Linked DNA regions of Homo sapiens: region 2 is linked to region 1. The links come from fine-mapping of genetic effects on gene expression. Tissue or cell type: cerebellar hemisphere. Region 1 holds a variant in brackets; the other region holds the start of a gene. All regions are shown on one strand. Distances are from middle to middle.

What was found. PIP is the estimated chance that this variant, and not a neighbour inherited with it, causes the effect.
Region 2: it holds the start of SPTBN1, and the variant in region 1 is fine-mapped to the expression of SPTBN1 in cerebellar hemisphere (GTEx, PIP 0.98).

The regions. Positions count from the first base shown.
Region 1 is chr2:54,961,683-54,964,364 of GRCh38, forward strand. EML6 (EMAP like 6) reads left to right here. Exons shown (of 42, transcript NM_001039753.4): 36 at 841-1,029; 37 at 2,304-2,476. Among named protein-coding and RNA genes, the nearest start is that of RTN4, 87 kb to the right of the region's middle. The variant G/A (reference allele first, on the strand shown) is at 1,077.
Region 2 is chr2:54,455,180-54,457,861 of GRCh38, forward strand. It overlaps SPTBN1 (spectrin beta, non-erythrocytic 1), which reads left to right and starts at 1,148. Exons shown (of 36, transcript NM_003128.3): 1 at 1,148-1,339.

The DNA.
Region 1 (2,682 bases):
ATTAAGAATGGACAGTTTGTTGTTAAAAACAAAACACTGGCCAGGCATGGTGGCTCACACCTGTAATCCCAGCACTCTGGGAGGCCAAGAGGCAGGCACATCACTTGAGGTCAGGAGTTCGAGACCACCTGGCCAATATGGTAAAACCCCATCTCTACTAAAAATACAAAAATTAGCCAGATGTGGTGGCGGGCACCTGTAGTCCTAGCTACTGGGGAGGCTGAGGCAGGAGAATCGCTTGAACCCAGGAGGCAGAGGTTGCAGTGAGCCAAGATGTCACCACTGCACTCCAGCCTGGGTGACAGAGTGAGACCCTGCCTCAAAAAACAAACAAAAACAACACTTCTCACCCCTTCTTATTTTAATATTAACACTGCAAAGGCATTTTCTCAAGTTACTTGTTTTTTTTTTTTTTTTAAAGACAGGGTCTCACTGTGTCACCCAGGCTGGAGTGCAGTGGTACCATCATCATAGCTCACTGCAACCTCAAATTCCTGGGCTCAAGCAATCCCCAAGTTTTTCTAATAATAGTGGTGTTTTAAATTTTTTTAACTGTGGCCAAATAGACATAAAATTGACCATTTTGACCATTTGTAAATATACAATTCAGTGGCATTAGGTGCATTCACATGTTGTGCAGCCATCACCACCATCCACAGAACTTTTCTTGCAAAACTGTAACTGTACCCACTGAACACTGACTCCCCTGTCCACCACCCCCATTCACCGGCAGTCATCATTCTACTTTCTGTCTCCATGAATTTGTCTACTCTAGATACCTCATATGAGTGCAGTCATACAGTATTTGTCCTTTTTCTAATAGTGTTTCAATTACAACAGGGAAAAATCTTAGTGGGAACCAAAGACGGAGAAATAATTGAAGTTGGTGAAAAAAATGCTGCTTCTAACATCCTGATTGATGGTCACATGGAAGGGGAGATCTGGGGCCTGGCCACTCACCCTTCCAAGGACCTCTTCATCTCTGCCAGCAACGATGGCACAGCCCGGATCTGGGACCTGGCTGACAAGGTGAGGCCGACTCTGCCCAAACTCAGATGCCCACGAGTGGGCTGCGC[G/A]GCAGTGGGAGCTGAGCGAGGAGAGGCCCAGCCAGCGTCATGGCAGAGACGGGGATGGGGCCAGGTAGGAGATCGAGTTAGAAAACCTAACGATAAAAGAAGCCCCACTCACCACACCCCGTCTAAACAATATAATTGAGAAGGATTATTCTGTTGTCATGAAAGAACCCACAAAACTAAAAATATAGAGACAAATCATGTTTTCCCTGGATGAGAAGACTAAAAATGATTTAAAATGTGAAATGTTCTGAAATGGGCCTAATGTATTTCTGTCAAAATCCCAACAAGGTTTCTCTTAGAGCTTGGGAAGGCAATGTTAAAGTTCATCTGGAGTAAAACTGTGAAATAGCAAGGAGTGGCTGGGCGGAGCGGGGTGGGTGGGAGGGAACAAAGAGTTCTTGCCGATCCTCATGGCCTTATCCAGTGTTAAAACAAGTACTCAAGTTCAACTAATTAAAATACTTGGTTTCATTTTAAAATGGCTGGTAAGTGTTTGTTGTATTTTTAGTGTCAGAGTCACAGAATAGTCAGGTAAAAGCTTGAGTATGGTTGCTAGACTTTTAAGTTAGTTTCTGTAATTATTTATTAAACATTATTAGCAACAGCTGTCACTACTTGACTAACTACATAACACCAGCTGCTTCATGGACATGATCAGTGCCTACAATAACCTTGCAAAACCCTTATTAACATCGCTATTAGTAAAACTCTAAAAACTGAGATGTAATTTACCCAAACACACCCAGCTAGTAAGTGACAGGGCCAGGATTCAGAATTTGAACTAGCAGAGGCAGAAGCTCACACTCTTTCCCCTAAAGAAGAGGTTGGCAATCTACAGTTAAAGGCCAGATCGGGCCTGTGGCCTGTTTCTACAAGTCCAGCTGCCCTCATTTATTCAGGTACTGAGGCTGTCTTGTGCTACAGTGGCAAAGGTGAGTAGTTGCGACAGAGACTATGGCCCACAGAGTCTAAAGTGGGTGCTACCTAATCATTTACAGAAAAAGCTGGGCAGCCTGTGCCCTAAAACTTGTTGTCCCCCAAGCTGCTCTAATCAAGACATACAGCTCTGCTCAGTTATTCAGGGACATTTACTCTAAGAAGCAAGAGATTTGGTGGCCTGCAGTGGCTGCGAGGGCAGCCTGACTTCTCTGGCCTGGTGCAGAATGTCTCCTGGAGACCAGCTGAGGGGGCCAAGAGCTCAGGTGACTTTCCTTTGCATCAATGTAGAAGCTGTTAAACAAGGTGAGCTTGGGCCATGCGGCCAGGTGTGCAGCCTACAGCCCTGATGGGGAGATGGTGGCCATTGGCATGAAGAATGGAGAGTTTGTCATCTTGTTGGTGAACAGCCTGAAAGTTTGGGGGAAAAAACGAGACCGGAAATCTGCTATCCAAGATATCAGGTACCTAAGTGGGTGGTCTGGGCATGGAGGAGAAAGGCAAGCATTCTGCTTACCAGTGGTTCCCATTCCAGCCACGGCTGGAATAAAGAACTCAGTTGTGAGAGGGTCACTTTCAACAAGCCACCTATGAAAGAATACCTTCTCCCACTCTCACTCTTAGACAAGTCTTTGCTAATTTCCATAAAAGTGTGGTTAAAATTACTTGT
Region 2 (2,682 bases), 510 kb before region 1:
AACTGCTTTTCTAAAGAGCGTTTCCATTCGTGGTCCTGGTGATTCCACCATCTTTTCTTCACAACAGTGACGGTTCTGGAATTTCTACACAGCCTGAGGGGCTGACGGGGTAGACCAGGTGACTGGGAAGGGGCAGTGGCACATGACAAAAATTTGAGGAAACGTCCAGTTTCCGTTTCAGGGAATGCGCATAGGGGAAAACGCAAGTCCCCACGCCATCACGGGGCCCTCCACCGCGGCCGGACGACCCCTCTCTCGGGAGTGACTGGGGCAGGGCACCTGGCCTCAGGTTCGAGCGGAGCCTGCACTGAGAGGCAGGAGTTGGATGAACCACTTGTAGGGTCTGCTCCCAGCTACCCAAAGCGAAAGGGTGGGCGAAAAAGCATTTGCAAAAGAATACATTAACCTCACAAGGAACGACCCCCACCACCCATCCTCCAGCGCCCAAGGTTTCCCACGAAGAGGTCGCCGTCGCCCTTCTCCAAGTTGGGTAGAACCTATAAGGCATCACCAACTGCATCTCAAACCAACCAAGCAAGTGACGCTCCAAAACCTCCCTAAATACCCTCTCTCCCCAGCATTCCGAACGCAACATCAAGGGCGAAAAGAGGCTGCACAAATCACGTAGAAAATTAGACCGCCTCTTTCCATGGCGATAATCGAATTAGCCTCAAATTAAACGTGAAATTGGCCCTCTCCGGCTGTGGAGACAAAGCCCCTATTGTCCTGCTCGGGTAGCGGCAGCAGCAGTGCCCACCCCGCCCCGGCCAGCCTGGTCGGTCCCCGCCGCTGGGAGGATGAGGTCCGGGCTGGACCCGGGAAGAGCCTCAGCTGGAGAGGACGTGGACGCGCCCGAGGCTCGGCTCCCTGGGCGGCTGCGGGGCTCCGGGCAGGAGGAGAGGGCGGGCGAAGCAGAGGGAGCGGGCGGGAGTGGGGAGGGAGGAGTGCGGAGGGCGGAGGGCGTGCGGGAGGGATCCCGGGAGTGCGCTTGTGTGTGTGTGCGCGCGCGCCCGCCCCGCGCGCTCCTCTCCCCGCCCCTCGCCCCCTCCCTGCGAGCGCCCTCCTCTCCTCCTCCCCCCGCCCCCCGCGCTCCCGCCCAGCCCCCGGAATCAGTGCCGCTGTTGCCGTGCAGGCTGCGGATTCCTCCAGTCCCTCCCTCGGCCGCCTCTCCTCCCGGAGCGAGCGCGCAGCCCTGCGCAGCAGCGCCCACTGGTCCCGTCCTGTGAGCCCCGGCCCCAGCCGCGGACAGACCCGCGGAGTCGCCTCCCGGCCCACCCGCCCGGCCGCCGAGGAGCGGGAGGAGGACGGGACCCCGGCGCCCCCACCCCATCCCCGGGAGGTAGGTAGGGGGCCCGAGGCAGGGAGATGCCAACTCACTGGGGCTGCCTCCCGGGTGGGCTCCGCGGCGGCGGACGGGCGGGAGGAGGGGCGCGGGCCCAGGGCCGGAGGACGCCGCTGCCCGCCTGCCCTGCGCCCGGGGAGCCGCGTGGGGGCAGGGAGGCTGCAAAGCCCGGGCGGGGGCGGCGCGGGGAGCCCGGGTCGCGGGTGCTCATTGGTACTCGGATGATGCGGGACGAGGGGCGGCAGGCTCTGCGGTGAGGCGGCAGCAGACCCGCCGTGCGCACCGCTGCCGTCCGGCCCCAGCCCCGGCGCGGCGCGGCGATTCCTCCTCCCTGCCTCCGCCGGCGCCTCCCTGCAGCCGGGCGCGGCGGCCCCTGACGCGGAGGCCCCTGGCGCGGAGGTGGGTGCGGAGCGGACAGCGGACAGCCGGAGGGTCTATTTTCAGGTGCCCTCTCTGTGGCCCCGCGGGTGGGGAGCGGGGGCGGCGGTGACAGGGCCGGGCTCTGCGCGTAGCGGTGCAGGGGATGCGGCCAGGCGTGGTCCCGGCTGCGCCGCGCTGCAGCTGAGCCGGAGGCGGCGGCCCCGCGCCCCCACCTCCGCCCCATCCCTGCGCTTGCTACCCTCGTGCGCCCGCCCCCCCCCCGCCCTTTCTGCCGTCCCCACTCTCCCAGGGCTGGGCGTGAGCCGCCTCCGGGCGCCGAGCCGCCGCTGCGCCCGCCCTTCAGCTCCTGCCACCCTCTCTTCAACAGGTTTGTCTCAGCGCAGGGACCCTCCGGGCCTGCTTTGGGTAGGTGGGCTGGCTCGTCATCACCCCCCACACCACGCCCACGGCCCTCTTTTAGGGGGCGCCTTCTCTTTGTTTTTGTGATAGGAAAGGTGCCAACTGCTGCCATCAGATGAGGAGGGGGTGGGGATCAGAACGCAAACCTCTGTCCATTATTTTTCCAATCGAAAGCCAGGCCAGATAGTAAGTGAGGACAGGGTGCGTGTGGGGGTGCTTCGGCGGAGCAGAAAATTGAATTCGGTGGGGTTTATTTGGGCGGGGATGTGCTTTTTTGGCAAGATGGATGGCTCACGGTGCCCTCGCCGTGATGCAGCACAATGCAGCAGTATCGCAGCTTCCTTGGTTCTCGCTGGCGGGGCTTGGCACGGCCGCTCGGCGCCTGCGGCCCCCGCCCGGCCCCACCCAGGCCCGGGGCTGCCCTTGGCCGAGGCCTGGAGCTGCTGCTACCTTGTCCTGCAGCTTCTGCTGGATGTGGCGTCAGGAGGACCAGGTCAGCTAGGTGTGAGCAGGGGAGAGTCTTTTCTTTTGGGATGATCCCTCCTGCACCTCTTCTTGGG